Homo sapiens: one gene and its partners. The protein of the gene in region 6 purifies or fractionates together with the protein of the main gene of each other region. This does not show direct contact. Each region holds a gene or a part of one and is shown on either strand. Other genes may lie near its edges.

What was found.
Region 1: the proteins of PTPN21 (region 6) and DUSP7 purify together in Homo sapiens (affinity purification with mass spectrometry, with the first as the bait; one large-scale study listed by BioGRID). This does not show direct contact.
Region 2: the proteins of PTPN21 (region 6) and STXBP4 purify together in Homo sapiens (affinity purification with mass spectrometry, with the first as the bait; one large-scale study listed by BioGRID). This does not show direct contact.
Region 3: the proteins of PTPN21 (region 6) and CEP85 purify together in Homo sapiens (affinity purification with mass spectrometry, with the first as the bait; one large-scale study listed by BioGRID). This does not show direct contact.
Region 4: the proteins of PTPN21 (region 6) and BPIFB1 purify together in Homo sapiens (affinity purification with mass spectrometry, with the first as the bait; one large-scale study listed by BioGRID). This does not show direct contact.
Region 5: the proteins of PTPN21 (region 6) and NRG3 purify together in Homo sapiens (affinity purification with western blotting, with the first as the bait; one study listed by BioGRID). This does not show direct contact.
Region 7: the proteins of PTPN21 (region 6) and AKAP8 purify together in Homo sapiens (affinity purification with mass spectrometry, with the first as the bait; one large-scale study listed by BioGRID). This does not show direct contact.

Annotation. Positions count from the first base shown.
Region 1 is NC_000003.12:52,053,772-52,057,783, forward strand, and holds the start of DUSP7 (dual specificity protein phosphatase 7), read right to left. Parts: upstream 2,801-4,012; 5' UTR 2,596-2,800; coding exon 2,079-2,595; intron 604-2,078; coding exon 169-603; intron 1-168. UniProt on the Homo sapiens protein: Dual specificity protein phosphatase. Shows high activity towards MAPK1/ERK2. Also has lower activity towards MAPK14 and MAPK8. In arrested oocytes, plays a role in meiotic resumption.
Region 2 is NC_000017.11:54,992,765-54,996,264, forward strand, and holds part of STXBP4 (syntaxin-binding protein 4), read left to right. Parts: intron 1-3,500. UniProt on the Homo sapiens protein: Plays a role in the translocation of transport vesicles from the cytoplasm to the plasma membrane. Inhibits the translocation of SLC2A4 from intracellular vesicles to the plasma membrane by STX4A binding and preventing the interaction between STX4A and VAMP2.
Region 3 is NC_000001.11:26,240,700-26,244,199, forward strand, and holds part of CEP85 (centrosomal protein of 85 kDa), read left to right. Parts: intron 1-3,466; coding exon 3,467-3,500. UniProt on the Homo sapiens protein: Acts as a regulator of centriole duplication through a direct interaction with STIL, a key factor involved in the early steps of centriole formation.
Region 4 is NC_000020.11:33,300,214-33,303,713, forward strand, and holds part of BPIFB1 (BPI fold-containing family B member 1 precursor), read left to right. Parts: intron 1-1,019; coding exon 1,020-1,199; intron 1,200-2,145; coding exon 2,146-2,199; intron 2,200-2,702; coding exon 2,703-2,861; intron 2,862-3,500. UniProt on the Homo sapiens protein: May play a role in innate immunity in mouth, nose and lungs. Binds bacterial lipopolysaccharide (LPS) and modulates the cellular responses to LPS.
Region 5 is NC_000010.11:82,354,194-82,357,693, forward strand, and holds part of NRG3 (pro-neuregulin-3, membrane-bound isoform), read left to right. Parts: intron 1-3,500. UniProt on the Homo sapiens protein: Direct ligand for the ERBB4 tyrosine kinase receptor. Binding results in ligand-stimulated tyrosine phosphorylation and activation of the receptor. Does not bind to the EGF receptor, ERBB2 or ERBB3 receptors. May be a survival factor for oligodendrocytes.
Region 6 is NC_000014.9:88,478,508-88,482,007, reverse strand, and holds part of PTPN21 (tyrosine-protein phosphatase non-receptor type 21), read left to right. Parts: intron 1-1,655; coding exon 1,656-3,088; intron 3,089-3,500.
Region 7 is NC_000019.10:15,359,288-15,362,787, forward strand, and holds part of AKAP8 (A-kinase anchor protein 8), read right to left. Parts: intron 2,965-3,500; coding exon 2,823-2,964; exon of another isoform or gene 2,764-2,822; intron 2,536-2,763; coding exon 2,442-2,535; intron 1,692-2,441; coding exon 1,561-1,691; intron 1-1,560. UniProt on the Homo sapiens protein: Anchoring protein that mediates the subcellular compartmentation of cAMP-dependent protein kinase (PKA type II).

The DNA of each region.
Region 1 (4,012 bases), on a different chromosome or scaffold from region 6:
CGGTGACTCACAGTAGGCCTGGGTACACCCACGGGCACACGCTGGCACACGTAGGGCACACACAGGTCTCAACAGGCCCAGAGGTACCCAGTCAGGCGGGGGCGCCACCCAGAGTCCTGCATACACCTTGATGCACCCACACCCCCCTGCCCAGCACACAGCACCTACCAATGAAGCTGATGGCCTCAGGGAAGAACTGGGAGAGGTTCTGGCTCCAGTGGTCAGAGATGGGGATCTGCTTGTAGGTGAACTCGCCGCCGTGCTCGAAGGCGTTGGGTAGGTTGGGTGTGACATTGAGGATATACTTGATGCCATACTTGCCGAGCACGTCCAGGTTGGTGGAGTCCTTGGCGCAGCCGAGGTAGAGGTAGGGCAGGATCTGGACAGGGAAGGCTGGTTGGCTGGATGGCACAGGGCTGCCGTCTGACTCGGTGGCACTGCTGGGCAGCTCTCGGTCCGACTCGCCGTCGGAGCAGTCAGAGCTGATGCGCAGGCCCCCCAGGCCCAGCACTGAGGTGGGTGGCGAGCTGCTCGGCGAGGAAGAGCTGTCCACGTTGGTCTCGCAGTGCTCAGAGTACTCTGTTTGAAACTTGTTGAAACCACCTGTGTCCAGGGTGAGACAGGGCCTGGGTGAGAGGCTGGTGAGAGCCCAGATGGGCTGCACAAGACCAGAGATGGCCAGGACTCTGCACGCCAAACACCACAGCACCCACGGTCAGCATGGGCCATGCCAAGCATGTTACACGTGTGCCCTCTCTCGTGTTCTCTCCATCTAAACCATGACCACTTCACAGATAAGGAAACTGAGGCCCCAGAAGGTGAAGTGACGTGCCTGGACTCCAAACTGGTACCCATAACACTTCGGGGCCCCCAGCCATGGCACCAGCTTTAGGGCACTTGAGGACAGGCCCCAGCTAATTCCTCTTCTGCAGCTCCCACGCACACCTAGCACCCATGGGTGTTCAGTAACAGCTAAGTGGTAAAGAAAAGCAGACAACCCCATCTTAGCCAGCACCTCTGGGTTGGCAAACTCCTCTTATAGATGAGACCACAGGTGCCAGAGCCACATCTGGCTCAGTTAGAGGCAGAGAGGTCCTGGGCTTCCTGAACGGGAGTCTAGTGGTTGCCCAGCCCCGAAACTACAGCTGGGGAGGGTAGTGGGAAGGTACTGGCTGGCCCCTTCCCCCAGCAGGGGCAGGTTTTTGAAGGGGGTCCTGGCTCCACTTCTCTAGAACCCTCCCTTAGAACACAAGCCCCACCCCCAGCCTTGGACCTGCAGCGGGGGAGGGCCACTGGGGCGATACAGGGACAGGAGAAATGGGGAGCCCCTTGCAGCGAGGCATGGGCCCTGCGCCCGAGGGTGCCGCAGGCCTCCCCTCCCCTCCCGCCCGCCCCGCTGCCAGCAAGAGGCCATTTTGGAATGTTAATTGGAAACACCGGCCTCAGCCACTCGCCCCCCGGTGCTACCTCTCCCTTCTGCAAGCTCCGGGGCAGCAGGCTAGGGACCTGGGGGTCCCGAGAGACCCGGGCCAGGGCAATGGAGCCTGCCCATACCCTGCCCCAAGCGCCTCCTAGAGGCGGCAATTCTCCGGTGGAAGAAGCAATTCCCGGATCCAGGAGACCCCAACCCAAATGGTCTCCATGCGCTGGAGGTGAGGATGGTGCTATGAAAGGTGCCCTTCCTGATCCTGGCCTTCCAGAAACACGAATTCTAGGCTGGACTTGGGCGCCCTGCCGCTTTTAGGGTTCTGGGAGGCGGCGCCTTCCACCTCTGAGGGGCTCCACTGGAGCCCAGGCACTACTGTCGCCCCATCAACAGGAAAAAAAAGGAAACCCCAGGCAGGGGAAAGTTTGTTCCACCCACTCGAATCGTGCCGAGAAAGGGGGCGCAGAGGGAGCCCCGCGCCTGCCAAACCACACAGTGGGGACCCGGCTCCAGGAGGGCGGATGCGGGCCGGGGACGACGTGGCGCCCAGAGGGGCAGGCCGAGCGCGTGGAGAGGAAAGCGCCTCCAAGGGGGGCGTCAGGGAGTCGCGGGGGGGCCCCGATCCCGTAAGGCGTCTCGGTGCCGCCCTCACCTTGGAGGTAGTAGGCCTGGCAGCCGTCGTCGCGCAGCTTCTGTAGGAGCAGGCCGAGCACGGAGGCGGGAGCGCCGGGCTCGGGCTGCCACTCGGCCGTGGCCTCGTCGTAGAGCAGCACGGTGGCCGCCTTGCAGCGCGTGGCGAAGCGCTCCTTGTCGGCGTGGTTGGGGATGATGGAGCGGATGGGCAGGTTGCCCTTGCGCAGGCGGCGCAACATGAGGCCCGGGATGGCCAGGTTGATGGCCGTCTCGATGTGCGACGACTCGAAGAGCTCGTGCGGCCGGCAGTCGAGCAGCAGCAAGGACGCGCCGCCGCGCGCCTCCAGCTCCTCCTGCAGCCACTCGGCGCTCTTGCAGGGCATGGCCCCTGCCCCCGTCGCCGCGCCCGCCCCGGTGCCTGCGCCGGACCCCGACCCCGCACCGGGCTCGGACCCCGCCCGGGTGCCCCCAGCCGCCGCCGCCCCCGAAGTCGACATGTGCGCCCGCGCTGGGGGGCCGCGGAGCTGGTTTTTCATGGGGAGCGCGGGCGGCCCGGGGCCGGGGCCGGGCAGCCCTGCCCTGGGACGGCGCCCCGGCCGCGCGGGCCCCAGCCGCGTCTCCGGGCGCCCGCCTCCCGCCGAGCTGCGCGCCCGCCGCCCCGGCCTCCCGGCCTCCCGGCCTCCGTCCCGCCCGCCCGCCCGGCCCTCCGCGCGCACCGCGGCCTGACAGCCCCAATTAAACGGCGGCTCCGGCGGCCGCGCGCCGAGGCGTTCTCCGGGGGGCGGGGCCGCGGGGGCCGGCGCCCGGGCTTAAAGGCGCAGCGCCTCCACCGCCCCTCCCCACGGGGTATGCGGGCGCGCTCGCGACCCGAGCCCGGGAGACCAGCGGCGGGGCCCTCCCCCACCGCCTCCGCACCGTTGCCCCCTGGACTAGCTCGGAGCTGACTACGATCCGCCTAGGGACCCCGGCCTAGACGCCCTCATGGGTTCACTCTGCGCGTGCTCCCAAGCTCTTCTGGACACTGCGGGAAGAGAGGCCCTGGGGGCGTCCTATGCCTGGCACCCCCACCCCACATTCACAACAGCATAGTTTTCCTGGGACGGGGCGTGGTGGGGGGGATGGTCAAGCTGAGCAACCTCTCCTCCTCCCGCCTGTCATCCCATTCATTTTTTCTGTCATCGAGTTCATTCAACAAATGAGAACTGAACGCCTACTACGTGCCAGGCACTGTGCTAGGCGGTCACCGTTTCAGAGGACCTCATCGTTCCCCTGACGGTCACAGGCTCCAGACCTGAGGGAGAGCGTCTCACGCCAGCAGGCCTGATGGGAAATCAGGACCTGGGCAACTGGCGGGGTAGGAAGACTCAGGGCCGTGCCACCTTCCGTGGGCAGGTGTGGAGAAATCCTAGAAAGGACCAGCTTTGGGAAGGGATCGCGAGCCCTTTAAGAAAGCTTTACAAGCGGGGTGGTGACAGGCGCCCAGTGAAGCGCCACGTGACTTTTTCCACGGGGCCGGTGGGAGGGGAATGCTCCTTTATAATCAGCTTTCCTTCCCCTGCCTCCCTCTCAACGGACCAATCAACTTCCGCGGTAGGCGGGCGCCTGCCATGCAGATGGCCAATCCTGGCCGAAAGAGGCGGTGGCGGAGGGAGGCGGGGCCCGCCGCGGTTTCCACCCAGGGCGGGGAAGTGGGCGGGGCCTCCGCCCGCCCTGTGTGTCGATTTGCAGGCAGGCGGGGCAGCGGAGGTGAATGGACCCGCAGGTAGCGCTAGAACAAAGCGGCTAGACGCAGGCGGCGCGCTTGCGTAGGACCTGCAGTGCTTTCCCTACGGAGCCAGGGTGGCAGCTTGAGGCTGGACCCTGCCGTCTATCTGGTCCATTCTTTTGCCTGGCGGGGTGCCCCTCCTTGGGGCTTAACCCCCCGACTCCGCCCGAGGCTGGTCGGCTCTGAGA
Region 2 (3,500 bases), on a different chromosome or scaffold from region 6:
CAGTGGCACAATCTCGGCTCACTGCAACCTCCACCTCCCAGGTTCAAGCGATTCTCCCACCTCTCAGCTTCCCTAGTAGCTGGGATTACAGGTGCGTGCCAACACACCTAACTAATTTTTGTATTTTTAGTAGAGACAGAGTTTCACCATGTTGGCCAGGCTAGTCTCGAACTCCCAACCTCAGGCGATCCATCCGCCTCAGCCTCCCAAAGTGCTGGGGGTACAGGCATGAGCCACCACGCCTGACCTAAGAATTTGCTTTTAAGACAAGCATCAATTTGTGCTTGTTTGTTACGATGAAAACTATTTGGAGTTAGAGTAATAAGTTGATAGCGGTGGTGCTGAATGACTCTTTATCTTCTGTCAGTGATAGCAGATTAAGAAATTATTCTTATGATATCTACTTTTTCTTGTTAGAATTTTACTGAAGTATTAAAAGGCAAAATTTTCTCATTGACTATATTCTCTACTTAGCACTAGAGGGCAGCACAGAGCTATTAATGTTCTTCCTACCTGGTCATATCTGACCAAGGAAAACAGGCAAGATAGAAAAAGGTGTAGGAGAAGAGGACCAGGGGTGATGGCTCATGCCTCTAATTCCAGCACTTTTGGAGGCCCAGGCAGGAGGATCCCTTGGGCCCAGGAGTTCCAGGTTGCAGTGAGCTATGATTGCATCACTACACTCCAGCCTGGGCAACAGAGCATTTCTAAAAAATAAAAAAATTTATAGAAGTAATTTTCTAGTGCTTACATTATTTTTAAATATTTTCTCAAGATGGAGAGCTCTATGCATATGCATATTCTTCAAATACAAAATTGATATAACTTTATTTTACAACAATGTATTAATACATTTACTATATTCTAAATACTGTTTTAACATGTTAATAAATTTCTAGTCTGCACAAAATTTCTACATAGTAGAATCTGTGGAATAGGAAACACAAACTCATAAGGTTATCTTAATGAAGTTGCTGAACTGAGTAACTGTTAATATTTTTTAAATGCATATGAATGCTTTAACTTTCTGTAATTTTGTTTTAACATTATAATGTTTCATAATTAACAGTATAGGCTATCTCAAGCTTATAGCTAGATTATATTTCATTTATATTTTCAAATCTTCCAAACTGTAAGGGAGTTATTGGAACGCAGAAGAAATTTTCTTTAATTATTCATGGTTTGCCACCACCCACCCCAAAAGTTTTCCTCCTGGAAAATATGAGAATAAAATACTGGTTTAGTAGAAGCAAAATAGTATGTTTCTTTGAAAAACATATCCAGAGTTCAAATATGGGATATTATGAATACATCTTTTCAGTTCAAGCAGAACCAAGATTCCCTCAGCTCTAAGAGCTAGAGGCACCCTATAAATTGAGAACTACTGTATTAATTGCTAAAGTTAAGGAAATAAGAGAGCTCCAAGGCCCTTTCACTGTGTCAGCTAGTCCCATATCTATCTGGGGTCAATCCTAGACCCTTTTTCTGGCCAAGACACTCCTTTAAGCTTCATACCCATATTCAGTTCCCTGATCAACATTTTTACTTGGACCTCTTAAAGGTATCTCAAACTCAGCATTTCTGAAGCAGAACTCATGACATTTACATCACACCATATTCTGCTCAACTCTTCCCAAACAGAGTCTCTTCCAGTTTACCTAGTCTTGGTGAATGACAGCTTCTAGCTACACAAAGTCAGAAAATTTAACAGCTTCCTATTTCAACTCCCATAACACTGTTCAATTCATTAACACATACCATTGACTTTTTTACTCTCGAAATATCTCTTGAACCCATCAGTCTTCTTGATCTTTATTCTTATCACTGGAGCTTAAACTGTCATCAGTTTTGAATCAGCCCTTTCAGTAGCATCGTTTGTTCTTATGCACCATACCTATTTCCCTCCCAACCTACATATCTTACTAATATTTGGTTGCCTGCAAGGTTCCATATAGTGTGGCTTCTGCCCTGTCCTTCTCTGCCTCTCCATCACTATGCTTCCAGAGTAGCATTTTCTCAGTTCCTGGAAGGGGCGAATTTCTCTTTTTTTTTTTTCTTTTCCATCTCATATGCTGTTCCCTTAGGAAACAGCACTCCATTTCCTTTCCCCCATTATTTCCAGTTATCAATTCAAAGACTGCTGCCTAAGGGTTGTGTTGCCTGCTTTCCCCCAGTCTAGGCTAGGTTTTATTTTTTTCTACATATGCTCCTAAATCCCATTCCTTTCCTTTGTGTCACCTACCTCAGTTTGCAATGATATATTTATATTTATGATTGTTTAATCATCTCTGCCTGAACCACAAGACAGTATGTTTCTTAAGGGCAAGGATGCTATCTGATTTTATTCACAGTAATATTGTTAGTCCCCACTGTGGTGCCTGACACATACATACTTGCTCAATTTAAATTTATGAATGAACGGTCCCGTAGTCATTTTCTCACATTTCTGAGGATTACTGATCTGCTTATTTACCCTTCCACTGGCACCATTTGGGCTCCACACCAAGGTACTTCCTCCTTGGGCCTTTGTGTCAGATTTCCGACAACACTTTAAAGTTCTCAAATGTTCATTTTTATTTCTTTCTTTTGTTGCTGGTAACATAGGGAAAGCAGACAGAAATCAAAATCCTCTCTTCAAATCTGATAGTATATTTCATATTTTCTTCAGTTGGTTCTAAGATATACATTAAAACATATACATATAAGCTATGCATGCACACACACATATATATAACATGCATATATCGGTATGTAATATACTTATGAGTGTGTGTATGTACGTATTTTTTCCTCTTCTATCTCTGAAATTATAGGTCTCACAGTCAGTGTCATCATGTAATTTGTGGCATTGAAGTAGGACATATTTAACTTTCAGAGGAAATCTGTTTTCATGCGGAGCATAGCACTGGAACCAGGGCTAAGGCTTTTAGATAAATATCAGGATCAGGCCTCTGGATGGCAAACTATGAAGAAACCAGTCCCACTGGTGGGAGCTGAAGAAGTAGCAGCCAAGATGGTTCGCTTTGCAGTGTCACTCTCTTTATTCCTTTGCCATTATTATTTTTGTCATAGCTACCTTAATTTCCTCAGACTGTTTCTTGGCCCCCTTTAACCTATTGTGGACTTACTGTGTACCTAGCACTGTACCAGGGAAATAACCATGAAAAGGACAGAGTTCTAGTTATGCCTAATGAAAGAATTGGTGATTCTGGCCCACTAAAAGAATCATTGCCCCTAGACTGGGAGTTGCTGATTTAGTATATTCTAATGTGAGGGCAGGGAAAAGCAGATATGTAAACATAAGGACCATACAGAGTAAGTGCAATCCTTTAGGTAAGTAAAAGTGCTTTTTGAGCAAAAAGACACAACGATTAAGTAAATCCTGGGCAACTAGAGAAAACTTCCAGCAGAGATAGTGTTTGAATTGGGCTGTGAAGTTTAAGTCAGAGTTTATTGCAGAGAAGTGGCAGGGTGGATGGTGGCATTCTAGATGGGAATTC
Region 3 (3,500 bases), on a different chromosome or scaffold from region 6:
GCCTGGCCAACATGGTAAAACTCCATGTCTACTAAAAATACAAAAATTAGCCGGGTGCAGTGGCATGTGCCTATAATAATCCCAGCTACTTGGGAGGCTGAGGCAGGAGAATCACTTGAACACGGGAAGCAGAGGTTGAGGTGAGCTGAGATGACGCCACTGCACTCCAGCCTGGGCAACAGAGTGAGACTGTGTCTCAAAAAAAAAAAGGGGAAAAAAAAGAAACCATGGATATGGAGAGCTGACTGTATATTAAACACATAAATATATGTATGCACTGTGCAGGCATATTAAGTAGATAATATATATTTCAAATAAGTAATATTTTAGAAAAATGACTTGTTGAATTCTGGGGTATTGGTAAAGAAGAGGGCACGTTTAATTCAACTCAGGGTATGTTTTATTTAACTTTAAAATCTCACAGTGCCTTACTCAGCGTAGATATTTGGTAAATGTTTGGTGTATTCTCTTAGGCATGCTGCCTTGCATAGAGTAGGCACCATTATAAGCTTTGGTTGAATCAATTCAAGATTCATTCAGCAGAATTTTTTTTTTTTTTTTGAAATGGAGTCTCGCTCTGTCACCCAGGCTAGAGTGCAGTGGCGTGATCTCGGCTCACTACAAGCTCCGCTTCCCGGGTTCATGCCATTCTCCTGCCTCAGCCTCCCAAGTAGCTGGGACTACAGGTGCCCGCCACCATGCCCAGCTAATTTTTTTGCATTTTTTAATAGAGACGGGGTTTCACCATGTTAGCCAGGATGGTCTCAATCTCCTGACCTTGTGATCTGCCCGCCTGGGCCTCGCAAAGTGCTGGGATTACAGGCGTGAGCCACTGCACCCGGCCTCAGGAAATATTTTTTAAACATCTGCTATGTGCTGCACATTCTCTTAGGTTTGTACAGTTTCTATGACAATTATGTATATAATGCAAGTTTTTGGAACAATGCCTTTCCTATGGCTTTTTTCTCTCTTCAATAGTATCTCATTCAGATTAATAATGGTCTTAATAATTGATAAGGATGCTACTGATAGGACATGCACTATAACACAAAAAATTTCAGCTTTTCTTTTTTTTTTTTGGAGACGGAGTCTTGTTCTGTGGCCCAGGCTGGAGTGCAGTGGCACAATCTCAGCTCACTGCAACTTCTGTCTCCTGGGTTTAAGTGATTCTTGTGCCTCAGCCTCCCAAGTAGCTGGGATTACAGGCATGCACCACCACACCTGGCTAATTTTTTTGTATTTTTAGTAGAGACGGGTTTCGCCATATGCCCAGGCTGGTCTCCAACTCCTGAGCTCAGGTAATCTGCCCACCCCCGCCTCCCAAAGTGCTAGGATTACAGGCATGAGCCACTGCACCCGGCCAACTTCAGCATTTAAACTTCAATTTTGAAATAAGTGTAAACCTCTATAAATATACCAAAATATATTTTTAACAAATAACTCTTTGGAATTAGGGTATGGAGTAGGTGGATGGAAAAATGGTAGCGATGAAGAGTGGAAGATTAGTAGTAGTAACAGGGAAGCGGTTTCCAGTAGGAAGTCAGGAAGATGGTAATAGAGGCCCTCAATCTTAACTGTTTCAAAAGGCCTGGCAAATTTTACACTGACTAGAGAGAAAAAGCTGTGTAGACTCACCAGAAGGTGGGATTTCTTTGCTTTGGGCTAGAATTACACCAACTTAGTATAGTAGCATTGGCTAATCTCATGCCGCTCAGAAACTCGGATTGTTGCCTGTGTCTTCTATAACAATTACAGATTACTGAGTGTATAAAGATTCTTTCAAATCAGGCAGTCACTGTGATCCAAAGAATAGAAGAAGTATTTGGGGAAAGTCAGGTTGCCTTCAGTAGAAAGCCAAAGTAAGGGTAGCAAAAAATGAGCAAAAGTAGAAGAAAATAGATTAAAAAGATGAGAGAAGCACTAAACTTGGAAGAAAGGAATAAAGTAATTTGTGTCCAAATTACTTTGGGCGTAATCATTTAGTGGGAGCAATCATTTGCCTCCCACTAGATCAGCGAGTCTGTAGAACCGTATTTTCTGAAATCGGCTTTCACACTTTAAGTTAAATGGAGGATAAGTAGCTGCCATTAGTTTTTTTGTTTGTTTGTTTATTTGTTTACATGGATCACCAGATACACCTTAGGAAAATTATAGTGGTTTTTAGAAAATAAATTTAAGTCTTTGCTAGAATGTTAGTGAATCAAGTATTTATTGAACACTTCCTACCTACCTCCCCCCAAACAGCATATTTTAAATCAAATAAATCTCATCAGTCTTTTTGTCTTAACCTTCTCAGCAGTTTTAGTGATATCTTCACGTTGCTCTCAAGATAAAGCCCTAGGCTCTTCAGATTGACTTTCAAAACTCACCTTGATCTCAATAGGATTCACCTATTGAGGGTACCCTGGTTCAGTGAAGCAGTGATTTTCTTTTTTTTTTTTTTTTTTTCTGAGATGGGGTTTCGCTCTTGTTGCCTAGGCTGGAGTGCAGTGGCGCAATCTTTGCTCACTGCAACCTCGAAGCAATGATTTTCAACTGGGGACTGGACTGCTTGTTGCCCTAGGAATCATTTGGAACTATATGGTTATTTTCTGGTTTCACAGTGATGGTGGTCTTGGTTGAGGGTTGCTGCTGGCATTCAGTGAGTGGGAACCAGGGATGCTAAACCATTCTGTAATGTATAGACTACACATTGAAGAATGGTCATCCCCAGAATGCCAAAAGCACCATTGAGAAACTGTAAGAAAGAGGAAAGAATGTGGGTTTTGGAATCAGAAAGAACTGGATTCAAATATCAGCCCTCCCCTCTGTAAAATAGGGGTGGTAATACTTTTCAGTAAGTAGGTAGGCAAGATTATGTTTGTAAGGTCCTGTGGCTTTACAGGTTTCAATAAATGGCCACTGCTATTAAATATGATTGTTTTCTGTTCCAGTACTCCTGGATTCTTCATGGGTCTTATTAACATCTTTGAATATTCTCACTTCTCATACTATTTCCACTTAAAATTAACTAGCTCAGGCTTGGCGCAGTGGCTCACACCTGTAATCCCAGCACTTTGGGAGGCCAAGGCGGGTGGATTATGAGATCAGGAGTTCAAGACCAGCCTGGCCAAGATGGTGAAACCGCGTCTCTACTAAAAATATAAAAATTAACTGGGCGTGGTGGTGGGCGCCTGTAATCCCAGCTACTCGGGAGGCTAAGGCAGAGAATTGCTTGAACCCAGGAGGTGGAGGCTGCAGTGAGCTGCGCGCCACTGCACTCAAGCCTGGGTGACAGAGCAGACTCCGTCTCAAAAAAAAAAAAAAAAAAAAAAAAAACTAGATCGGAGCAGCTGAAATAGGCACAGGAGAGAGAAAGGGGTGGGTTGCTGCTATTCTCTTAGGTTTATGTGATTTTTTAAAAAAAGATCTGATGGGGTTACATCAGCTGGTTCACAGTAAAGGTGGGAAATGCCTCTTGTTTCAGGTTCCGATGTGATTCAGAAGGGCAGTTCCCTGGG
Region 4 (3,500 bases), on a different chromosome or scaffold from region 6:
GAGTGGGGACACTGGGCCCTCAGCCTTTCTCTCAGGCAAGTCCCTGCCAATCCCCAAACCTATGACAACCTTGAAACAAAAGCCAAGGATCAAGAAACACAGACCTAAGTTTCTCTCCTAGCTCTATGATTCCCTGGCTATGTGACTTTGGGCAAGTTCCTTTACCTCCCTGAGCCTCAGTTTCCTTGTCTGCAAAATGTCAGTAATAATGGCCACTGAGGAGAGGATGAAATGAGACCACACCATGCCTGGCAGACCAGAAGTGCCCAGTAACTGTCAGCTCCCTGTCCAATGTGGAGCTGCACAGCCATGCTGTGGCTGGACGCCCCAAAGGGCCAGACCATCCTGGTAGCATGAATCCCAGACTAGGTTTCTTTTGTTTTGTTTTTTTGAGACTGAGTCTCACTCTGTCACCCAGGCTGGAGTGCAGTGGTGCCATCACAGCTCACTGCAGCCTTGACCTCCTGGGCTCAAGCGATCCTCTCACCTCAACCTCCTGAGTAGCTGGGACTGCAGGCACTCGCCACCACGCCTGGCTAATTTTCTGTATTTTTTGTAAAGATGGGGTTCCGCCATGTTGCCCAGGCTGGTCTCAAACTCCTGGGCTCAAATGATCCTCCCACTTCGGCCTCCCAAAGTGCTAAGATTACAAGCATGAGCCAACACGCCTGGCCCCTGGACTAGTTTCTATGGATCCTTTGGAAAACTGCAGCATCAAATCGTTTCTTCCATTTTGTTGTAGTTTTTAATTTTCCCTCCATCCAAAGGGTTTGAGGTGTCTGAGAAGTTGAAGCATGGGAAAAAAAACGAAGATATCTGGTACAAAAAATAAAAGTCAGAGATTATCCGAGGGGCAAAGATGGAGTAGATGTTGCCACACACCTGAGCTCCAGGCTAAGCTTCCTGGCAACAAATGCACAAAAAGGAAACAGGCTGAATGGTGTCATTTCCTTCTAGGTTGCTATTGGGTAAGCTGCAGAGTTAAAATTCTTAGCTGACTCCCTGCTCTGTCTCCTCAGGCCAAGTTGTTGGACTCACAGGGAAAGGTGACCAAGTGGTTCAATAACTCTGCAGCTTCCCTGACAATGCCCACCCTGGACAACATCCCGTTCAGCCTCATCGTGAGTCAGGACGTGGTGAAAGCTGCAGTGGCTGCTGTGCTCTCTCCAGAAGAATTCATGGTCCTGTTGGACTCTGTGGTAAACCTCAGCACAAGGCAGAGAATAGGGCCGCCCAGGCCACATCATAGGAATTTCCTGAACACAGGGTGCCCCTAAGCAGGAATCCTCCATCAGGCTCAGTTTAATGGAGATCTCACTCCCTCCTCTAATAGACCCTGCCTCTGACATAGCTCTAAACCTAAAATCCTCCCGGTAACATCCAGCCCCAGTCATGGTTCTACCCTCTGGAATCTGATGCAAATGTTTCCTCTACCAAATAACAGTCTCGTGAAATCAAAAGGCATCTTAGATATGCAGTAGTCCAGGGGTGATAAATACATCTCAGATAGTGAGTAGTCCAGGGATGGCGACTGTGCCACTGCTCACCACTATGACACTCATGGCAGACATCACTAATCGATCAAGGCTCTCCTTTCTACTGAGTCTGGATGCTGACACAACCTTGGAATCCTTATTAACAGGGCACAGCCGATAACCACCACCAGTCAACTATGTTGTGCCACCTCCTCCCGGGTGACTGACGGGGAAATTGAGGTCCAGAGGGGGAAAGGGTTGGTCCAACGTTATGGGAGGATGGCAGAACTTCAGGGCAGCTGACAGACAACCAATAACCAAGCTCTCAGGGGACTGGGATGGCGAGAAAATAGGGAGTGGTCACCAACTAGCCCATTCATGATTGCAGTAAAAATGAAATCACCTCTCTATGTCCTCTGAGATCAGGAAGCTGCCCCCAGACCCACAACCATCACCAGCCCACAGTAAAAGTCCAGGCCAGCAGGACCCCATGCCCCATAGAAGCTGACCTAGGGGCTGTTTTTCCACCAATGACAGACACATGGCTTGGGTCACTGGGCCCACCCAGCTTTTCTGGGGTCCTGGGAAACCTTCCTCCCAGCAGTGGGGTGCAGGAGATGTGCCTCCCTGTGCCCTCCAACTGACCTTCTCTGGCTCCTCTCACCCTCAGCTTCCTGAGAGTGCCCATCGGCTGAAGTCAAGCATCGGGCTGATCAATGAAAAGGTTGGTCTGTTTGCCATCTGCAGCTTGAGGGGTGTTTGCTGTGGTCTGGACACAGGCCTCTGGGGAGGAGAATCTAGTGGGACTAGTGTTTCATTCCAGCACTGGGACACTCAAACCGCATCCCTGTCCGCACAGAGATTTCAGTCTAGCAGGCCAGTTTGACCTGAAGCAAATCATCACATGGATAGTATTTCCATTACAGCTGCAGTAACACAGGACAGGTTCTAGGGGCCATGAGAACACTCTGGGCCCCTGATACAGTCTGGGACGTCAGGGAGGCCTCCCTGAAGGGAAGGGCATTCCAGACAGAGGGAACAGGAGACCAAAGGCTGCCAGGTAGGGAGAACAACACAACATTCAAGGATCTGCAAGAAGGACAGGGTGGCTGGAACACGTGAGGGAGCAGGGAGCCCAGGAAGGCAGGCAGGGGCCAGGCCACACACAGAGCCTGTGGGCCATGGTGGGCACTTGGGAGGCCACATGTGGGTCTGATCTCCTTCCAGGCTGCAGATAAGCTGGGATCTACCCAGATCGTGAAGATCCTAACTCAGGACACTCCCGAGTTTTTTATAGACCAAGGCCATGCCAAGGTGGCCCAACTGATCGTGCTGGAAGTGTTTCCCTCCAGTGAAGCCCTCCGCCCTTTGTTCACCCTGGGCATCGTGAGTTCAGTTGTCTGCGATATTGGCAGCAACCAGGGGGACCCTTCTGTCTACTTTTCCTGTTCGCCCTCTTGCTTTGTTAAACATTTCCACCACTCTCATCACTTAGCAGGGACAGGGGACAGGGAGCTCTGAACCAAGAGCCAGGAGCTTTGTGGGTCCAATTCTAACCCTGTGACTTTCTTAGTCAGGAATCTCTGGACAGAAACTCAACTCATATGCACAAAAGGAATTGTATTAGCTCCTATAACTAAAAAGTCTAGATGCTATTGACTTCGGGAATAGCTGGACCCAGGTGCTCAAACAATATCCTCTTCATTCTCCTCTCTCCCACCTAGCAGCCTTGTTTTCCTCTGTGCTGCCTTCATCCTCAGGCAAGCTATTCCCTCATGGTAGTGCCCCAGGCTGCATTAGGCTCATATCCTATCAGCTTGGCAATCACCGCAGGAAGAACCTATCTTTCCAATAGTTCCAGCAAACATCTCAGGGCTGACTCTCACTGAATGAGCCTGAGTCAGTTGCCCATTCTTGAGCCAATCAGTGTGTCCAGAAAAATGGAATATGAAAACTTCCTGAGCTGGGCCACCTACACACTAGGGTAAGGGAGTGAGGGCTCTATGAATAGTGGCTGCTTTCGTC
Region 5 (3,500 bases), on a different chromosome or scaffold from region 6:
CCAAATAATTTATTATTATTATTATTTGTATAGATGGGGGTCTCCCTATGTTGTCGAGGCTGGTCACAGACTCCTGGGTTCAAGTGATCCTCCCACCTTGGCTCCTGTAGTTCTGAGATACAGGTGTGAGCCAGAGTGCCTGGCCTGTGATACCACTTTTTAACACAAACAATTAGAAAAATGCTGTATAAAAAAGTTGTCCTTTTTTTTTTTTTTGACAGAGTTTCGCTCTTGTTACCCAGGCTAGAGTGCAATGGCGCAATCTCAGCCCGCTGCAACCTCCACCTCATGGGTTCAAGTGATTCTCCTGCCTCAGCCTTCCAAGTAACTGTGAATACAGGTGCCTGCCACCATGCCTGGCTAATTTTTTGTATTTTTAGTAGAGACAGGGTTTCACCATGTTGGCCAGGCTGGTCTCCAACTCCTGATCTCAGGTGATCCACCCATCTTGGCCTCCCAAATTGCTATGATTATGGATGTGAGCCACCGCGCTGGGCCAAAATTTCTCCCTTCTGTAAATTCCTATTCCGTGCCTCTGTGTCATGCCATCCATAAGCCCAAGGATTAAAGATGTGAAGACCTGCTCTGCTCAGTGGAAGCAAGCTCATGGTCCAGTCAGACAGTCAGATGGGAGCTTCAGAAGCTGATGGATGTGGAGAGAATGATGTCTGATAGCAGGGCCCACTCTGAAATAAGGGAACTTAAAGAAAGCCTTGAAATACAAATTGGTATTCACGGGAACATAAGGCCCCTCCTGTTTACTTACAGGAACCTTCATCCATATAATTGTTTTGAAGGCAATAGCTCTATAACAAATTATTTACCAAATTACATTCCTAGAAACAGAAGTTTGATTAAGTACATGCCAAAATAGTACCATATAGCATAGCCAGCTTAGTGTATTGGACTGTCTTAAAAGTGGCATAGCTTTAAAAAATATAAACAAGCTTCCAAAAGTGTTGAATTTGCTCACAGATGAGAGTTTTTGATTACTAAGATACACCAAGGTTGTTTAGGATCATAACTTTTATAGTTTGGCATTAGATCTTATCCATGTTCTCATTCTCACAAATGTTCCGTGTTTCTTCTTCAGAATAAAACACTCAGCTGGATACATTAGAGCACACTGTGCCACCTTAGGGCACAGAAAGAAAATAAAGAATTGCACCTTACATTTTATTTTTGGCTCATTCTTATTTATGTTCTATTTTATGTGTTTTGTAGTGTATCTTGTATGTTGAAAATTAAACAAATAGATGTATGAATACATACATGAACTTTAATCAGATGTACAAATGTAGGAGGATATCATCCAAAATTATTAGCATCTCTTTAGTAGGCTTTGTTTGGTTGTAAGTGATAGAAAACCTCAGTAAGAGTGACTTGGACACAGTATGCTTATTATTTAGTCAAGAAAAATCTAAGTAGGTGGTCTTAGAGTTAGCGTAGCAACCTCGTGAGTTTATTAAGGGTCCAGAATTTGCCTATATTTCCATACACATATTTTGCATGATGACTTTCAAGAATAAAATTTCACCTCATGATGAATTACACTTACCTTAGCCAATGCCTCTGTGATTTCAGGTGGGTAATACTATGTAGATAATATATAGTAAAATGCATAGGTATATTCTAAGGTTTCAAATGTATTGATAATTGCAGTTATTTACTTAGAGAATGATCATACCCAATATTTTATTATTGTTTATTATATTGTCATTAAAAAGTTATAATAATGTTGTTTTCTTTGAATTCAGTAAAGTCATTGTGAAGGTTAAGCATGTGCATTTTAAATTAATTTGGAGATTCTTTAAGCTATGGAAATGGAAAGCCTCAGTACATGTTAAGCCTGATATCTGAGCTTTCCCACCCCAGACTTTTGCAGAGCCATTGACTTGGGTCTCTGATCCTCTGTAATGTGCTGATAGATGATAACATGATGGAGAAATCAGTTGGTAGAATGGGGCGGTAACCACTAGAGATAGCAGTTGTCAGATGGAAATTAATTGATTGTAATTGCTTTGCCATTGTATTGCACTTGAAGTCTGTAGCTTGTTAAAACCACTGATTATAAAATAAGGATCTCACTTTTTATGCTGTAGATTATGTTAATGAAAGCTGTTCTTAGAAGCATGATCAGTGAATATCAATAAATGGATAATAAGAAATTAAAGGAAAAGTTAACTAACTGATCATGAGTTAATATACTTCAGCAGCCAGAGTAGCAGTCAACTGTGCACCGTTTCATATTGAATTTTTTGCTCAGAGCTCTTGAATTTTAAATATTTCCCATAGAGAGATTGATTCTGTGTGACTGTTTATCACGTACTGTCTTGAATAACAGATCTTTTCTGTAGAGAATCTCCTGCAAGATGGAAAATGTGTGTGTTTTGCAGAGCCTTTATTTTGTGCCAAAGTATTAACAAGCAGATATTTTGAAATGGAAAACATAAGTTCCCATTGCAATACCAATAGTGGTTTATTTCAGTGCTCGTGGAATATGAGTAACATATGTGTGAGGGTCTGTGTGAATCTGAAGGCCTTGCTGTTGCAATCTTTATCAATATTATAAAAAGTATACTAAAATGATAACATAAATGTTAAATTATACTTCACTTTTTGCTGTACAAAATGCGTTAACTTTTATAAAATTATAATGAGGTTTTTAATTATAGCTTTCATTTATAGCATTTAATTGTTGATGTTAGAGAGATCAGAGATTTTGGAGATATTTTTCTGAACACCAGTTCTCATTAAGCCTCCATGCAGGCCCTCAAGGACCTTACAGAAGAAAGGAACAGATAAAACAAAGAAAGGATTACTTGCAGTGTTGAATGCAGTGATGAAAGTGATAAGAGGCACTGGGAGGCACAAGATGAGATCATCTAAGTTCTGAGGATTTCTGGGTGTCTTCAACAAAGAATGAAGGTCTGGGAAGAAGGAGCAGTGTGACAGTTCTTGGTATTTTGGGGAAATAGAATGATAGTTGAAAATTAAGTTGCATAAAGTTTTAGAGTGCAAGAAGAGACCAGACAGATAAACATATAGATGGCCCATGCCCTGGTTTGCCCTACTGTGGATTTTAAAGTTATTCCCACAGGAGAGCCCATGAGGATTTTTAGATGTGGGAGAGACAGGGGTGAGTTTCCTTTTAAACTGCTCGCTCACCATCAGTTGTGACGATAATCAGGGAAGAAGCTCATTGTGACCTTCATTTACTGTCTTAGTCCATTTTCTATTGCTTTAACTGAATACCCGAAGCTAGGTAATTTATAAAGAAAATACATTTATTTTTTGCAGTTTTGGAGGCTGGGAAGTCTAAGGTCAAGGGGCTGCATCTGCTGAGGGCATTCTTGCTGGCAAGGACTCTGCAAGCCCTGAGGCAGTGCAGGGCATCACATGGATAGGGAGTAAGAGCATGTCAACTCAGTCCTTCTTTCTCTTCTTGAACAGCCAACAGTTCCATCATGGGGGCCTCACCCTGATGACCTTATCCATTC
Region 6 (3,500 bases):
CCTGTCTGAGTCTGCCGTAGGGGCTTGAGCTGGAGAGGCTCTTCTCTCTGGAATGTTGTTGGTCAGTGTTGCAGTTGGAAGAGAGCCTGGAAGCTGGCTTTTAACCCTCTGTGCACTTTCCCTTGACCATTACTAGTCGCATTGTTGTGCCTGATATCAAGGGGTGAGGAGGGGTAACCCTGCGTGCTCTGAGAGGTGGAGAGACCTCACTTCTGATGGAAGCTGGACACGCCCACCCCACCCACTTACCCCTCAAGTCCCCTTAACTGCCATATCTTGTGAGGTGGTTCTTGGTTCTCTCTTCCTTGTCCCCATCAACCCAACTCAGGCTGGAAATGAGCATTTCTTCCTCTGGACTCCTGTAACCCTTCATCTCTTCTCCCTTCCTTGAATTATGGTGATTTCATGCATACCTTTCCCCTTTTCTTGCCTGTATTCCAACCATCTTTTCCTCCTTCTATTCTTAGTATTGCCTTTTCCACATAACAGTCTCATAAATGGCTAGATGGTTTGTGGGGTGCAGAAGCAGGGAGACTAGGTGTATATAGAGCTAGTTCAGACAAGCTGGGGTAGGGGCCCGAGCTGTGGCAGCAGTGAGGAAAGGGGGATTGCAGAGATGGAGCCATGACCAAGCTTTGCATAAATGAGGAAAGCACAGTGACATGGAAGTGCTGTGTGTCAGCAGAAGAATACCATGGAGATTTGAGTGCTATTTCCTCACAGCTGCATGTGCCACCAGAATAAAGTGTACCCACTGGATTGTGGTGTATTACTTAAGTATCACCATGATCACATAAATCACCATGGAGCTTTCGAAGCACAAAAAGAATGCCTTTCAGAGGAAATTGTTATTTGAAGGAGTTGGCTGCTGAGTGTTAGAAATCATCTAGGGTTAGAAATCATCCTCAGTAACAGAGGGCAGGTGAGCTACAAATTGACTAGAAGAAACATGGCCCCTGTCATCCCTGGGCAGGGACACATGCATAGCTATTTTAAGATTAGGTTAAACTGATTCTGTTAGCTGCAGGTCTGGATCTTCCTGAAACATGGGGGCCAGGGCAGGGGGCAGCTGCAGCTGTTTAATGTGGCTCCTCTTGGCTTCTGGACACTTTATGGGCTGTGTGGCTGCTGGTGACACTGTTGGACCAGAGAAGTTCAGATCCTGCTATACCATTACCCTTTTACAGTCGAAGCTCTCATATTCATTTGGGAAGAACAATAAAAATTTCCAGTTAAGGAAATGCTTACAGACAGTTGGTGCTTGAACTAGCTCAGCAGCAGCAAGGCCACATCCCTACCCAGGGAAGAAAGGCAGAGTCCCCAGCCCAGTGCCTTGAATGGTATCTCTGCCTCAACTTCCCCAGAGTTCCAAAAAGTCTGCTAGTCTGCTGTGGGTGTGGTTCGTTTAAGACAGGGTCTCACTTTGTCACCCAATGAATGCCACCCCTTAAGTAGGCAGAGCCATGCCCATCCTATAGATGAGGAAGCCGAAGCTCCCAGGGTCACTCAGATAGTGTGGCTAAAGCTAGGTCATTCTAGCGGGGATTTTTACAAGCTGTGTTAAAAATGTCATCAGAGGTAAGGGCCGATCTCAGTATTTGGTTGGAGTAATTAGTCCATTTAAAAAAATCTCATTTTGAACTCATTTTTTCTAGATAACCTCTTTGTGCCCAACCAGAACGGATACTACTGTCACTCTCAGACAAGCTTGGATAGAGCCCAGATTGACCTCAACGGTCGGATCCGTAATGGCAGTGTCTACAGTGCACACAGCACCAACTCCTTAAATAATCCTCAGCCCTACTTGCAGCCCTCGCCGATGTCGTCCAACCCTAGCATCACCGGGAGTGACGTCATGAGGCCTGACTACCTCCCGTCCCATCGGCACAGCGCCGTGATACCCCCGTCCTACCGCCCCACCCCAGACTATGAGACTGTGATGAAGCAGCTCAACAGGGGCCTGGTGCATGCGGAACGGCAGAGCCACTCGCTGCGAAACCTCAACATCGGCAGCTCGTACGCCTACAGCAGGCCCGCGGCGCTGGTCTACAGCCAGCCCGAGATCCGCGAGCACGCACAGCTCCCCTCGCCAGCGGCCGCACACTGCCCGTTCAGCCTGAGCTACAGCTTCCACAGCCCGTCTCCCTACCCCTACCCTGCCGAGCGGCGGCCCGTGGTGGGCGCGGTCAGCGTGCCGGAGCTGACCAATGCGCAGCTGCAGGCGCAGGACTACCCGTCTCCCAACATCATGCGGACGCAGGTGTACCGGCCACCCCCACCCTACCCGCCCCCCAGGCCCGCCAACAGCACGCCAGACCTGTCCCGCCACCTTTACATCAGCAGCAGCAACCCCGACCTCATCACGCGGCGCGTGCACCACTCGGTGCAAACGTTCCAGGAGGACAGCCTGCCCGTGGCGCACTCGCTGCAGGAGGTCAGCGAGCCCCTCACCGCCGCGCGCCACGCGCAGCTGCACAAACGGAACAGCATCGAGGTGGCCGGGCTCAGCCACGGCCTGGAGGGCCTGCGGCTCAAGGAGCGCACCCTATCCGCGTCGGCGGCAGAGGTGGCGCCGCGAGCCGTCTCGGTGGGCTCCCAGCCCAGCGTTTTCACCGAGAGGACACAGCGAGAAGGGCCGGAGGAGGCGGAGGGCTTGAGGTACGGCCATAAGAAGTCCCTGTCGGACGCCACCATGCTAATCCACAGCAGCGAGGAGGAGGAGGACGAGGACTTCGAGGAGGAGAGCGGGGCCCGGGCGCCTCCTGCACGTGCGCGCGAGCCTCGGCCCGGCCTGGCCCAGGACCCACCTGGCTGCCCTCGCGTCCTGCTCGCCGGGCCCCTGCACATCCTGGAGCCCAAGGCCCACGTCCCAGACGCGGAGAAGAGGATGATGGACAGCAGCCCCGTCCGCACGACCGCAGAGGCCCAGCGGCCCTGGAGAGACGGGCTGCTGATGCCCTCCATGTCGGAGTCCGACCTCACCACGTCAGGCCGCTACCGAGCCCGGAGGGACTCTCTGAAGAAAAGGCCGGTGTCGGACCTTCTCTCTGGGAAGAAGAACATCGTGGAAGGGCTCCCGCCTCTAGGGGTAAGCCACGCGGCGAGCAGTGCCGGGCCAGGGGACCGCGCGTTCGCCCTGGCGCTTCTTTCACTCATCACGTCCCGTGTTTTTCAGCTCCTCTTGTTCTTTTAACGTTCTTCATTCCCCCACGTCACTCTCTTTTTGTCTAATTCTGAACACATTTAAATTTATGGAAATCATGGGGATCCACTTGAATTTTAGTGGTTTTACTGGAGATAATTATTATAGATGAAGTGAAAAGGTAAATTCACAGGGTTTTGTCGAAATGGAAAAGATGAATGAAATGTTTTAGTAATGCACTGTTAAGGGAAAGACAGTTAAGATTTCATTACTTTAGCCACGATTGCTTTAGCCACCCATTAAAAATACTGTGGGTGATGTGGCACCCCAGGGGTGCATTTGTTTAGTTTGCTCAAGA
Region 7 (3,500 bases), on a different chromosome or scaffold from region 6:
ACCCATGTAGCACATGCAGAATTGGGGGTGAAACAAGAGCATTTACAAATGAAAGGCTGTGTGGACTCAGTGGAGGAAAAGGACAAGCTCTTTCTTTTCAGTTTTTGGGGTTACATTGATTTCATAAGTTCAACAACAAAAGTATGAATATGCTGGGTGTGGCAGCTCATGCCTGTAATCCTAGCACGTTGGGAGGCTGAGGCATGTGGATCACTTGAGGCCAGGAGTTCGAGACAAGCCTGGCCATCATGGTGAAACCCTGTCTACAAAATATAAAAATTAGCTGGGTGTGGTGGTGCACACCCGTAATCCCAGCTACTCAGGAGACTGAGGCATGAGAATTTGGGAGATGGAGGTTGCAATCAGCTGAGATTGTACCACTGCATTCCAGCCTGGGCAATGGAGTGAGACTCTGTCTCAAAAAATAAAATTAAAAACAAAAACAAAAACAAAAAACAAACACACAACCATGACTGCACCAAGTCTCTGTTTTAGAGCCTGACTTGTTTGCACAATGGTCCCTTGTTTGTATACTGCTTTTCAGCTGATCTTTAACAGTACTGGGGCTGGGTGCAGTGGCTCACACCTGTAATCCCAGCACTCTGGGAGGCTGAGGCGGGTGGATCACCTGAGGTCAGGAGTTCAAGACCAGCCTGGCCAACATGGTGAAACCCCGTCTCTATTAAAAATACAAAAAATTAGCCGGGCATTGTGGTGGGCGCCTGTAATCCCAGCTACTTAGGAGGCTGAGGCTGGAGAATTGCTTGAACCTGGGAGGCAGAAGTTGCAGTGAACTGAGATCGTGCCACTGCACTCCAGCCTGGGCAACAAGAGTGAAACTCCGTAAAAAAAAAACAAAAAAACAAAAACGTAAACCAAAAAACCAAAACCAAAACCAAAACCAAAACACAGTACTGTGAGATGGGTGAGCAGCTCTTGACCTCCCCATTTAATAGCTGAGTAAACTAAGGAGAGAGCTGCTAACCCAGGGCCAGAAAGTGACAGGCTGCAGAGCAAACGCAGCCACAGGCACTCTTCACTGTCTGCTTTTCTGCACTGACAGCAGGTAGAGCTGTTGCTGGATAGGGCCTCTATGGTCTGCAATGCTAAAAATACTCATGATCTGACTCTTTACAAAATAAGGTATTTTTCCAGCATCTTCAACACTTGACCCCTGGGCTCAACATTTAGCCTGAAGCCCCAGCAGCTAGGTAAGGACAGAACCAGTCCTTTAGTCCAAGTCCCCTGGGCCACTCAGCTTTCAATGGCCCTTCGGTCTCAGCTTATGGAAGCCCCCAGGCCTTCCGCTAGTGGGAAAACTGACCAACGTGGAAACACTATCAGGAGAATCTCAGCTACTGCATTTAATCGAGTCTAAGCAACACATTTTCTCACATTTTTATAAAAATTGAGACGAATCTTACGACCCATCGATGGAAGTGATAGACTTGAAACATAGCAAGAACCCCTAAAGATGTTGTTATTCCCCATAAGACACAGCAGGCTCTGAGCCGCAGCCCTGCAATGAGCACCCCAGGCAGTGTGGGGAGGAAGACTCACCCTGCGGTTGTGATTGTGGTCCACGGAGTGCAGGTGCCGCTGGAGGAGCTGCGGCTGTGCAGGAATTAGCATGTCGCAGGCCAGGCAGTGAGCAGCCTCGATCTTCTTGAAGAAGTGCTCCTGGCCAATCCCTGCCAGGAAACGCATGTCTTGTAGGATCTGGGACAGCAAGTGATGCTTTCCTCCTACTCCCCATCTGGGCCCACGTTTTCTCCCTGCAACTCTAAGGAATCAGAAGGGCACAGCCTGCCTTTCTATGGGGAGTATGGGTCAGCACATCGGCCTCTATAGCTGTGAATTCTGCACTTTTCAGCTTTTCTGTTCCTCCTGGTTGTTTCTTTTCAAACCAAGGAGGAAAAGATATGAAAGTGCTTAATGTCACTGATATAAGCTGCAATCTATGCAAGGCCACATCCGAAGGTTTCTTTCCATTGCTGCTGAGCGCTCTTCCCACGGGTCTCGTCATCACCTTCTCAGCCAACTTGGGCTGGCTTCATGCCACTTTTTTTTTTTTTTTTTTTGAGACAGAGTCTTGCTCTGTCGCCTAGGCTGGAGTGCAGTGGTGCAATCTTGGCTCACTGCAAGCTCTGACTCCCAGGTTGACACCATTCTCCTGCCTCAGCCTCCCAAGTAGCTGGGACTACAGGTGCCCGCCACCACGCCCGGCTAATTTTTTGTATTTTTTTAGTAGAGACGGGGTTTCACCGTGTCAGACAGGATGGCCTTGATCTCCTGACCTCATGATCCGCCTGCCTCAGCCTCCCAAAGTGCTGGGATTACAGGTGTGAGCCACCGTGCCCGGCCTCGTGCCACGTTTTACGGGTCCTGTCACATGCCTTACTACCATCCAGGAAAGCACTCATCCTGGGATGACAACTCACCTTTGAAAGGATCTGGTTTTGGTTTTGCGGTTTCTTTCTCCATCAATTCCTGACGCCGCTTCTCAATTTTCTTATTTCTGTTTACAATGTATTCCTAGGTGGGATTGGAGAGGGCATAAAGTAAAATGAGAGGTGGGCGCATGTGGGCATTTCTCAACTGCCAGGGCTAGGCAGGCAGCTATCAGAGCAGCTGCGTGGGGCAGCACAGCACGATGGCTGGAGCTCCCGGTTGTCCCTGTGACTCAGGGACTTACACAGCTACTCTATCTGGGAAAGGAAACCTTGGCCAAGTATAGCCTCTGATTTCCCTTCCTCCTTCAAGGGATCCGGCACCTGCGGGATGGGCAAGAGACGCGGTGACGGGGCCCAGGTTTCCTTTACCTGGAGGAACTCCACGGTCTTGTCGGGCAGCTTGGTGCTTATGAACCGCAGGGTCTCTTTGTGAAATTTGCTTTGCAGATGCTTCTGGATCTCTTCGTCATCAAAGCTACGGAACTTGCATACAGAACAGGCAAACTGAATTCTGTAGAAGGAAAACAAGGAGGGGAGTGAAGCAGGGAGCATCAGCGAGTGAAGCAGGGGGCATCAGCTCACCTCTGAGGAGAGCTGAAATAGAAACAGGATTTTCAGCTCTCCCCCTCCCCCTCTCCCTCTCCCCACGGTCTCCCTCTGATGCCGAGCCGAAGCTGGACGGTACTGCTGCCATCTCGGCTCACTGCAACCTCCCTGCCTGATTCTCCTGCCTCAGCCTGCCTACTGCCTGCGATTGCAGGCGCGCGCCGCCACGCCTGACTGGTTTTCGTATTTTTTTGGTGGAGACGGGGTTTCGCTGTGTTGGCCGGGCTGGTCTCCAGCTCCTAACCGCGAGTGATCCGCCAGCCTCGGCCTCCCGAGGTGCCGGGATTGCAGACGGAGTCTCGTTCACTCAGTGCTCAATGGTGCCCAGGCTGGAGTGCAGTGGCGTGATCTCGGCTCGCTACAACCTCCACCTCCCAGCCGCCTGCCTTGGCCTCCCAAAGTGCCGAGATTGCAGCCTCTGCCCGGCCGCCACCCCGTCTG